Homo sapiens: one gene and its partners. The protein of the gene in region 1 purifies or fractionates together with the protein of each later gene. This does not show direct contact. Each region holds a gene or a part of one and is shown in the gene's direction. Other genes may lie near its edges. The genes, in order: CTCF, TOP2A and RPL13A.

Region 1 (3,748 bases):
AGCCAGGCTGGTCTTGAACTCCTGGCCTCAACTGATCCACCAGCCTTGGCCTCCCAAAGTGCTGGGATTACAGGCGTGAGCTACCGTGCCCGGCCCATTCACAAGATATAAGAGCCAAAAACTATGAATTGGCTGATTTGTTTTCTGCTTTCTATTATATATTCAATTTGGTTGGCATTTATTGAGTACTTACCATCCTGGGCACAGTGCTAAAGAGTAAAAACCGTGGCTGGGCGTGGTGGCTCACGCCTGTAGTCCCAGCACTTTGGGAGGCCGAGGCGGACAGATCACGAGGTCAGAAGTTCAAGACCAGCCTGGCCAACATAGTGAAACCCCGTATCTGCTAAAAATACAGAAAATTAGCCAGGTGTGGTGGTGGGCACCTGTAATCCCAACTACTCCGGAGGCTGAAGCAGGAGAATCACTTAAACCTGGGAGGCAGAGGTTGCAGTGAGCCAAGATCACGCCATTGCACTCCAGCCTGGGCGACAGTGCGAGACTCCGACTCAAAAAAAAAAAAAAAGTAAAAACCGGTTGGGCGCAGTGGCTCACACCTGTAATCCCAGCACTTTGGGAGGCCGAGGCAGGCGGATCACGAGGTCAGGAAATCGAGACCATCCTGGCTAACATGGTGAAACCCCGTCTCTACTAAAAATACAAAAAATTAGCCGGGCATGGTGGTGGGCGCCTGTAGTCCCAGCTACTCGGGAGGCTGAGGCAGGAGAATGGCGTGAACCTGGGAGGCGGAGCTTGCAGTGAGCGGAGATCGTGCCACTGCACCCTAGCCTGGGCAACAGAGCGAGACTCCGTCTCAAAAAAAAAATTAAAAAAAAAAAAACGACTTGTTAGATGTGGTTCTTATTCTCAGGGAATTCCTGATCTCATTGTCAGGAGAGAGGTGAATGTCAAGTTGATGGTATGACATGGGCAGTTTTGTGCAGTGTCTACAAACACGGCCATTGCAGTCTGGATCTAAGTTCTGAGTTTGGCTTCAAAAAACAAGGTCAAAAACCCTTGACAGGGTGGGGAAAATGGGGAATTGCTGTTGAGTGGGTATAAAGTTTCAGTTATGCAAGATGAGTAAGTTCTAGAGATCTGCTACACAACATAGTTCCTGTATTAATCGTATAGCATTATGCACTTTGAATTATGTTGAGGATGGATCTCATGATAAATATTATCACCAAAAACAAAATACAAGGAAATTTTGGAGGTGTATTTAGTGTTTTTTTTTTTCTTTTTTGAGACGGAGTTTCGTTCTTGTTGCCCAGGCTGCACAGTACAATGGCGCAATCTTGGCTCACCGCAACCTCCACCTCCCGGGTCAAACGATTCTCCTGCCTCAGCCTCCCAAGTAGCCAGGATTACATACAGGCATGCACCATCACACCTGGCTAATTTTGTATTTTTACTTAGGACGGGGTTTCTCCATGTTGTTCAGGGTGGTCTCGTACTCCCGACCTCAGGTGATCCACACACCTCAGCCTCCCAAAGTGCTGGGATTATAGGCGTGAGCCACCACGTGCTTAATAAAGCTACCTTAATAAAGCTTTTTACAAAACATTGGCAGACCCGGGCACAGTGGCTCAGTCACATGTATAATCCCAGCACTTTGGGAGGCTTAGGTGGGAGGATTGCTTCAGCCCAGGAGTTCAAGGCCAGTCTGGAAATGTGGCAAGACCCCATAATTGCAGAAAATTAAGCTAATTCATATATGCATCATCTCACATCCTTGTCATTTTTTGTGATGAGAACACTTAAAAATCTGCTCTCAGTTATTTTCAGGTATACGTTATTATTAACTGTAATATTCATGTTGTATAATAGATCTCTTGAACTTATTCCCACTGAAATTATATGTCCTTTACCAGTGTCTTCCCCACTACATGTGTAAGATTTAAATTAGTTTTGTTAGTAATTCTTTAATATCATCAGATATCCAGAGTTGAAATTTCTAATTGTCTTGTGTCACATCTTTTTCACCATTTATTGGTTTGAATCAGGATCCAAAGAAGATTCATGCATTGTGATTGATTACTGTCTCTTTAAGACTCTTTTATCTGTATCAGAGTTTCTCAGCCTCAGTGCTCTTGACATCTTGGGCCTGATAATTCTTTTTTTTTTTTTTTTTGAGATGGAATCTCGCTCTGTCGCCCAGGCTGGAGTGCAGTGGCGCGATCTTGGCTCACTGCAAGCTCCGCCTCCCAGGTTCACGCCATTCTCCTGCCTCAGCCTCCCAAGAGCTGGGACTACAGGCGCCCACCACCACGCCCGGCTAATTTTTTTGTATTTTTTAGTAGAGACGGGGTTTCACCGTGTTAGCCAGGATGGTCTCGATCTCCTGACCTCCGGTAATCTGCCCGCCTCAGCCTCCCAAAGTGCTGGGATTACAGGCGTGAGCCACCGTGCCCGGCCTGGCCTGATAATTCTTTGTGGTGGAGGACTGACCTGTGTCTTGGAGGATGTTTAATAGCATCTCTAGCTTTCACCCACGAGATAACAGTAGCACATCCCAGCCCAGTAGTGACAACCAAAAATGTGTTAGCCAAATGTTCCTAGAGGCAAAGTCACCCCAGGCTGAGAACTACTGATCTACTGGTTCTCCCTCCAATCAGTCTTCCCTTGTATTCTTCTTGTTATCTATTTGCAGAAGAACCTGAGTATAATCTTGCAGTGTTTCCCTCGGTATGGATTTCACTGATTTAATCCCTGTAGTATAATTTAACATCCTGAGTCACCAATTTCCTGTTAATTGGGTTGGATCTAGAGACTTGATTGGTTTCAGAGTTTTGGAGTTTGTTTGACAAAATTGCATTATAGGTAGTGGTTTTTTCTTTTTCTTTTTTTTTTTTTTTTTTTTGAGATGGAGTCTTGCTCTGTCCCCCACGCTGGAGCGCAGTGGTGCAATCTCGGCTCACTGCAAGCTCCGCCTCCTGGATTCAAGCTATTCTTCTGCCTCAGCCTCCCGAGTAGCTGGGACTACAGGCGCCCGCCACCATGCCTGGCTAATTTTTTTTGTATTTTTAGTAGAGACGGGGTTTCACCGTGTTAGCCAGGATGTTCTCGATCTCCTGACCTCGTGATCCGCCCGCCTCAGCCTCCCAAAGTGCTGGGATTACAGGCGTGAGCCACTGCACCTGGCCAGTAGTGGTTGTTTCTTTCATCAAGAGGCACATGTCTGTTGTGTCTTTTTTAATATTAACAACCATTGATGCCTAATTCATTCACCAAAGGGTCTTTTTGTTTTAAAATGTATATTTTTATTTAGACATGCTTTGCTTTAAATAACAATCTGTGTTCTCCCTTAATAAAGGCAGGGGAAATGGAAGGTGATGCAGTCGAAGCCATTGTGGAGGAGTCCGAAACTTTTATTAAAGGAAAGGAGAGAAAGACTTACCAGAGACGCCGGGAAGGGGGCCAGGAAGAAGATGCCTGCCACTTACCCCAGAACCAGACGGATGGGGGTGAGGTGGTCCAGGATGTCAACAGCAGTGTACAGATGGTGATGATGGAACAGCTGGACCCCACCCTTCTTCAGATGAAGACTGAAGTAATGGAGGGCACAGTGGCTCCAGAAGCAGAGGCTGCTGTGGACGATACCCAGATTATAACTTTACAGGTTGTAAATATGGAGGAACAGCCCATAAACATAGGAGAACTTCAGCTTGTTCAAGTACCTGTTCCTGTGACTGTACCTGTTGCTACCACTTCAGTAGAAGAACTTCAGGGGGCTTATGAAAATGAAGTG
Region 2 (3,748 bases), on another chromosome or scaffold:
TGACACGAATGGCAAATTGCTGAGTTGGGACTGAAACCCAGGTAGAGGAAGGAAGCAATGAATGGAAAGAGGTGGCTCAGCTGGAATTAGTAGGCACTCAAATTGTGCAGTTTTTTTTTTTCTGGCTTCTTGTAAGGGTAATAACTTTGTTTAATCCACTCAAACATTTATATGTAAGAGTAATTTTAAAACTTCAGTCTTCGCCGGGCACAGTGACTCACACCTGTAATCCCAGCACTTTGAGAGGCTGAGGCGGGCAGATCACTTGAGGTCAGAAGTTTGAAACCAACCTGGTCAACATGGCAAAACCCTGTCTCTACTAAAAAAATACAAAAATTAGCCAGGCGTGGTGGCAGGCGCCTGTAATTCTAGCTACACGGGAGGCTGAGGCAGGAGAATCGCTTGAACCCGCGAGGTGAAGGTTGCAGTGAGCCTAGATCGCGCCATTGCACTCCAGCCTGGGCGACAGAGTGAGATTCCATCTCAAAAAAAAAAAAAGCAACAAAAAAACAAGCAAACAAAAAAGCTTCAGTCTTGGCATTTCCTTGTCAAATTGGAACAGCTGTTCTGGACTGCAGGGTTCACGGAGGTGAGCAAAAGTAGCCAGTCGGAGGGTATCTGGCCAGCTGGCTGCGGAAAAGGTTTCAGCCCCGGACGGCTGAGCCCACCCTCAGCTCAAGAGGCTACCACCACAAGTTATCCCTTTCGATTTACCAGTTGCAGTCCAGCGCTGCTCTACTGGGGACCTGAATGCTGCCCTCCATTTTGCAAAGCCTTTCTACATCCTTCCACTATATGGAACCCCCAAACCACAACTGTGGCACTTTTATTTTAATTATTTTTATTATTTATTTATTTATGTATTTATCTCTTGAGGTGGCCTCGCTCTGTCACTCAGGCTGGAGTGCAGTGGAGCAATCACGGTTCAAGGCGCCTCGATCTCCGATCCCCGGGGCTCAAGCGATCCTCCCTCCTCAGCCTCCGGAGCTGGAGTTACAGGTGTGCGATGCCTCGCCTGGCTATTTTTTTTCCTTTTTGGGTAGAGACGGGGTCTCGCTATGTTGCCCAGGCTGGTCTCCAACTCCTAGGCTCCAGCGATCCTCCCGCCTCGGCCTCCCAATGTGCTGCGAATACAGACTCCAGCCACCGCACACAGCCTACTTTTATTTCTTTGAAAAATGAATTCGAGGGTAAAGGGGGCGGGGTTGAGGCAGATGCCAGAATCTGTTCGCTTCAACCAAGCAGCCAGGCTGCCTGTCCAGAAAGCCGGCACTCAGTTTCCTCAGGAAAACGAAGCTAAGGCTCCCATTCCCCTCGCTAACAACGTCAGAACAGAGGACAGTTTTTAGATTTCAGGGATCTTAAATAGATTGGCAGTTCCTGGAGAATAAACATCCTTTGCTTTTCTCCTGCACACTTTTGCCTCAGGCCACCCCTTCCCGCTTCCAAAGCCCATCTCTTCCAAGCTTTCCGCACGAGAAAACAAGTGAGCCCTTCTCATTGGCCAGATTCCCTGTCAATCTCTCCGCTATGACGCCGAGTGGTGCCTTTTGAAGCCTCTCTAGTCCCGCCTCCCTAACCTGATTGGTTTATTCAAACAAACCCCGGCCAACTCAGCCGTTCATAGGTGGATATAAAAGGCAAGCTACGATTGGTTCTTCTGGACGGAGACGGTGAGAGCGAGTCAGGGATTGGCTGGTCTGCTTCGGGCGGGCTAAAGGAAGGTTCAAGTGGAGCTCTCCTAACCGACGCGCGTCTGTGGAGAAGCGGCTTGGTCGGGGGTGGTCTCGTGGGGTCCTGCCTGTTTAGTCGCTTTCAGGGTTCTTGAGCCCCTTCACGACCGTCACCATGGAAGTGTCACCATTGCAGGTACGGCTCGCGGGGGGGACTGGCGGTGGAGCCTCCGCGCGGCCCGGGCATCTCTCTGGCCGCCCGTGACGGGTGAAGCTCTGGGGCTGCGGTCAGGCCGGCGACCGGCTTGGGAGCCCATATTCTCCATTCCCGGTTCCGGGGTGATCGTGGAGAGGCGGAAGCCCCTTCTGGTGCTAGTAGTGAAGTATGACCCGGCTTCCAGGGTGTCGTGCGTTGTTGCCCTGTTTCTAGGGGCAGGAGTCCGTTGGTCCCGTAGTGGATCCATGTTACAGCGGCCCGGGTGCGACGTTATTGAGTCGCGCGTACAGATGCTTTCCCCTCCTGCCCGCTGCTTGAAAACGGTCTTGAATGTCCCCGATCTTGGAAAGGGCAGAGCCTAGCACAGTGTTTCTCTGGAGCAGCTGGCCAGCTTACAAAAGCGCCCCCTTCCTGAGTTCACAACGCTCAGGTGGCCAAGGGATTGAACGGATAGCCGCCCAAACTGCTGCTGCCGAACTAGAATTATTTACGGTGTCGTGTGCTCGGGACACCGTAAATAATTTATAATAATAGGCACTCGGTAAATAATGTATGCAGGAACTGAAAGAAGTGGGTGTATTTTATTGATGACATCTACCATGTTGCTCAAGAAAAGAGGTTTCCAGACAGACCCACTTGGTGAGATAATATGTGTCTGTTTAACCTGACACCTGGGGACCTGGCCGCAGCGAATTTAAATTGTCCTATTTGTACAAAACTGGCAACTCCACCACTGCCTACTAACAGATTGCAATGCATGTTGACATCTCACTATGGTAGGCATTTTGTTCCTAGTTTAGGGTAAACTTATGATTAAAAATTCCCTTCTTTCTCTCTTTTTTTTTAATTGCTAGCCTGTAAATGAAAATATGCAAGTCAACAAAATAAAGAAAAATGAAGATGCTAAGAAAAGACTGTCTGTTGAAAGAATCTATCAAAAGAAAACACAATTGGAACATATTTTGCTCCGCCCAGACACCTACATTGGTTCTGTGGAATTAGTGACCCAGGTAAAATCAAGCTCATCAAAGGCAGTTAACCTAGTAGTTGAAATGGATACTCTTCTTTCTGTACCTTTCATGTACTGAGTGTGACCTTTCTGTATCTCTCATGTACTGAGTGTCACTGGAACTGGCCTAAATATGGTAATACTTAATATGAACACTTTATGGTAATCATGATAACAGAACAATGAATATAGAATAAAAATAACAGTATTTCTTTGCCTTATTTCTAGCAAATGTGGGTTTACGATGAAGATGTTGGCATTAACTATAGGGAAGTCACTTTTGTTCCTGGTTTGTACAAAATCTTTGATGAGATTCTAGGTGAGTAAATCCTTTAATATAAAGATCTGGTCAAATCTTTCATAAGAAGTATCATTCCAAATAAAAATTTAAAAAAGATAAAAGTAAAAACAAAAAGTATCATTTCTACCAAACCTGCTGTAGCCAGGGCTCCTGTCATTTCAATCAGTTGATAAAGGTGAGCTGGTTTCCTGGAGCCCAGGAGGTTGAGCTTCTCGTAGAAACAGTACTATGGACAAAAATTGCTAAATTAACACCTTGTTAATGCCACTCCTGTGCTGTTTGGGAACTTTTTTTTCTATATCTTACTTAGAGTTACAGAATGTTTCTTAAAACACTAATTTCTTACAAATGTATATTTTATTTTCTTTCAGTTAATGCTGCGGACAACAAACAAAGGGACCCAAAAATGTCTTGTATTAGAGTCACAATTGATCCGTACGTCTTTTGCTTAGTTTTTGTTATGTAGCTCGTTGCTATTGTTAGCTGCATGTATTTTGATTACTGGTGAAGTTGGCTTTTCCTAAACAGAAGTTGAGAAAAGTACACAA
Region 3 (3,748 bases), on another chromosome or scaffold:
TGTTTTTGTTTTTTTCTTTTGAGACAGACTTTTGCTTTTATTGCCAAGGCTGGAGTGCAATGGTGCAATCTCGACTCACTGCAACCTCCGCCTCCCGGGTTCAAGCAATTCTCCTGCCTCAGCTAATTTTGTAGTTTTAGTAGAAACGGTTTCTCCATGTTAGCTAGGCTGGTCTCAAACTCCCAACCTCAGGTGATCCGCCCGCCTCGACCTCCTAAAGTGCTGGAATTACAGGCGTGAGCCACTGTGCCTGGCCCTAATTTTGTATTTTTAGTAGAGATGGGGTTTCTCCCTGTTGGTCAGGCTGGTCTCAAACTCCCAACCTAAGGTGATCCACCAGCCTCAGCCTCCCAAACTGCTGGGATTATAGGCATGAGCCACCGCGCCCGGGGAAATATAGGGAACATTTCTATCATGGCCACGTTCTCTTGGACAGCAATGCCCTAGCACATAGTAAGCGCTTGCTGGGAATGGAGTTGTTTTGGGCATAAATCTGTGGCCCGCCCCAAGCTAAGCTACTTTCCCTCTCCTCTCTCAGCGGAGCCTTAAACAACGCAGTGAGACAGACATCTATCATCCCATTTTACAGGGGAGGATACTGAGGCACACAGAGGGGAGTCACCAGCCAGAGGATGCATAGCCTGGACACAGAGGAAGTTGGCTAGAGGCCGGTCCCTTCCTTGGGCCCCTCTCATTCCCTCCCCAGAATGGAGGCAACGCCAGAATCCAGCACCGGCCCCATTTACCCAACTCTGTACAAAGCCCTTGTCCCCATGAAATTGTATATAAATCATCCTTTTCTACCAGCTCTGGCCAGGTCTGTCTATGGATGGGTGTGAATGGGGTAGTTTTGATTTCAGAATCTTGGTTTTTGAATTGCAATGCAATGTTTCATTCAATACGTGTTTTCTGAGGTCCCCTGGAGCCCCGGGCCGGCGCTGGGCAATGTCAGAGCCTGGATTTGAGTCAGAACCAGCCCAGGTGCCCCAGGTCTCCTTGGCTATGGACGAGAAGACAAGGGATTCAGCGAGCCTGGGTGCAGGATGCCATAGGCTACTATGGAGATAAAACAGAGGCAGTGTGAGGGGCAACTCACCCAGGCAGGGAGAGCAGAGAGGCTTTCCAGAGCCAAATGGCATTGCGATGGTGACAAGCCAGATTTGGAGGGGGTGGGGAGGGCATCCTGGGCAAGGGACCCAGCTGAAGCAAAGGCCGACAGTCCAGAAAGTGAGAAGTTCCTCTGAGGAACGCTCAGTGGATTGGTGCAGCCAGGCAACTAGAAGCCATTCCTTGATCCACTCTTAGAGCCCCTGGGGAAGACCACCTCCATCTGTTTTACAGATGGATAAACTGAGGCCCAGATAAGGCCAAGGGTTTCTCCAGGTCACAGTGAAGTCGACCAGACACAGGAATCCAAATCTCTAAGCCTAGAATGGGCAAGGCTCCGGGGCTCACGCCGGTAATCCCAGCACTTTGGGAGGCCGAAACGGGAGGATCGCTTGAGCCCAGGAGTTCGAGATCAGCCTGGCCAACATGTCAGACTCCCCCCGTTCCCGGGCCACAACAAAATATATATATATATATATATTAGCCAGGCATGGTGGCGCGCCCCTGTAGTCCAAGTTACTCGAGAGGCTGAGGCAGGAGGATCCCTTGAGCCCAGGAAGTGGAGGCTGCGGTGAGCCATGATCGCCCCACAGCACTCTGGTGTGGACAACACAGCGAGACCCTGTCTCACAAAATAAAGTAAGCCCGGACTGAGTGCGGAAAGGCGGGCCTGGCGGGTCTGGTCTCCCCATGCGGGCCACCAGAGGCCCTGCAGCCTTCAGTCGCTTGAAGGGGTAATGGCGCTTCCACTCACAAACATGGCGGACAGAGCGTGTGAACGAGATGAACAGCCCCTCAAAAATATGGCCGCCGAGGCTGGACGGCCGTGCCCCAGCAGCACCGCCTCCGCGCCCCACGTGATCTCTCGCCGGGCACAGCGCTGACCGCGGAGGTCCAACCGGAAGAATGTCCGGATTGGACATTCGGAAGAGGGCCCGCCTTCCCTGGGGAATCTCTGCGCACGCGCAGAACGCTTCGACCAATGAAAACACAGGAAGCCGTCCGCGCAACCGCGTTGCGTCACTTCTGCCGCCCCTGTTTCAAGGGATAAGAAACCCTGCGACAAAACCTCCTCCTTTTCCAAGCGGCTGCCGAAGATGGCGGAGGTGCAGGTATGGGCTCCGCGCGGGCCGGGGCGGCAAGGGGCCGGGTGGGATCCAGGCCGGAATGGGGTCGCACCCTCTCTGTCTTGCATGTTTTGCGGAGCTTAACATCCATAATGAAGCAAAATGGAAGTCTTTTGGGATAAGGGGAATCTGTAGGAAATGCCGCGGCTCTCTTTAGGCCTAGGGTTGGCTACAATGTGGCATTTCCTTCTCGAGGCGAGGGTGATAGAGCTTCCAGCACAGGACAGGTATTTTGCAACTAGATTTTGCTTACCTTGAACTCGGGTAGTGGGTGGGGGCCCTGGGGTAGAGTCTTGGCCGAATTGGACCCTTGTGTGTCCTCAGCGATGAGGAACACGCGGAAGTGTGGCCGGGCGGTCTCGGGGCAATGAGAAACTGAGTTTTGGCCAAAATGGAAGGTATTTTTATCCCGCTCAGTGCGCGGGCTACTTTGATTTCACGTGGAGGTGTTAATCGGGGTCCCCTGCAGCTCCGGTTCTTTTAATTCTCAATGCCTTTCTGCGGGGGGTCGAGAGCTGTTGGCTGCGGGGCACTCTGGAATGAACTCGTTTTCCGTCGTTTTGGGGATTGGCGATTGTCCTGAGGCGTGTTACTGGAAGTCGAGAGCTGTGATGAATGGTTCCACAAGGATGGGACATCTTTTGGGCCTGACACCTGGGGGCCCTTTCCCTGGCTCCTGGTGTAGCTACTTAAGTATAAAGGAGGGATTGGCCCTGGAAAGGTTTCTTTGTGAGTAGTCTGTTGTTGGGGCGGGTGACATTTCAGAGCCAGGCCGATCTAGGCAAGTTGTGTTCACCAAGCATGTGTCTTTGTGCCTAGCACAGTTCGCAATGTTTTGCGTAGTTCAGTTAACCATATTCCTGAGGCAGTTACTGGTATCCTTGTTTTACAGAGGAGGAAATTAAATTGGAATTGGTGATTTTGGGCCAAGGTCACGACTTCAGGAAGTCTGTCTGGATTTTAGAGTCTTTGTACCAACGCTTACAAAGCATGTGTAACAACCAGTGTGTGCTTCATGCTTTTGCATTAAAACAATGAGGATTTCTACTTTTAGTGTTTTTTCTGAGACGGAGTCTCGCTGTGACACCCAGGCTGGAGTGCAATGGTGCGATCTTGGCTCATTGCAACCTCTGCTTCCCAAGTTCAAGTGATTCTCCTGCCTCAGCTTCCCGAGTACCTGGGACTGCAGGTGCCTGCCACGACGCTTGGCTAATTTTTGTGTTTTTAGTAGAGACAGGGTTTCACCATATTGGCCAGGATGGTCTCGAACTCCTGACCTCAACTGATCTGCCCACCTAGGCCTCTCAAAGTGCTGGGATTACAGGCGTGAGCCCCTGTGCCCGGCCAGGATTTCTACTCCGGAGGAAGCTGAGGTTCGGTGCCTGAGCAGTTTACCGGGGAAAGCAGAGTGCTCTATAGCAGAGCTAGCATGGGCTTTTGACTACTCTGCCTAATCTCATCCCACCTGAAATTCGGTTTTCTTCCAAATTAAATTTGTGGTAGAAACATCCTAT

The links.
Region 2: the proteins of CTCF (region 1) and TOP2A purify together in Homo sapiens (affinity purification with mass spectrometry; 3 studies listed by BioGRID and IntAct, with this or other methods). This does not show direct contact.
Region 3: the proteins of CTCF (region 1) and RPL13A purify together in Homo sapiens (affinity purification with mass spectrometry; 4 studies listed by BioGRID and IntAct, with this or other methods). This does not show direct contact.

Annotation. Positions count from the first base shown.
Region 1 is NC_000016.10:67,607,511-67,611,258, forward strand, and holds part of CTCF (transcriptional repressor CTCF), read left to right. Parts: intron 1-3,313; 5' UTR 3,314-3,322; coding exon 3,323-3,748.
Region 2 is NC_000017.11:40,415,892-40,419,639, reverse strand, and holds the start of TOP2A (DNA topoisomerase 2-alpha), read left to right. Parts: upstream 1-1,743; 5' UTR 1,744-1,848; coding exon 1,849-1,869; intron 1,870-1,955; exon of another isoform or gene 1,956-2,056; intron 2,057-2,744; coding exon 2,745-2,900; intron 2,901-3,127; coding exon 3,128-3,218; intron 3,219-3,571; coding exon 3,572-3,635; intron 3,636-3,748. UniProt on the Homo sapiens protein: Key decatenating enzyme that alters DNA topology by binding to two double-stranded DNA molecules, generating a double-stranded break in one of the strands, passing the intact strand through the broken strand, and religating the broken strand.
Region 3 is NC_000019.10:49,485,426-49,489,173, forward strand, and holds the start of RPL13A (large ribosomal subunit protein uL13), read left to right. Parts: upstream 1-2,182; 5' UTR 2,183-2,204; coding exon 2,205-2,219; intron 2,220-3,748. Other genes in the region: FLT3LG (fms-related tyrosine kinase 3 ligand), read left to right, coding at 590-777. UniProt on the Homo sapiens protein: Associated with ribosomes but is not required for canonical ribosome function and has extra-ribosomal functions.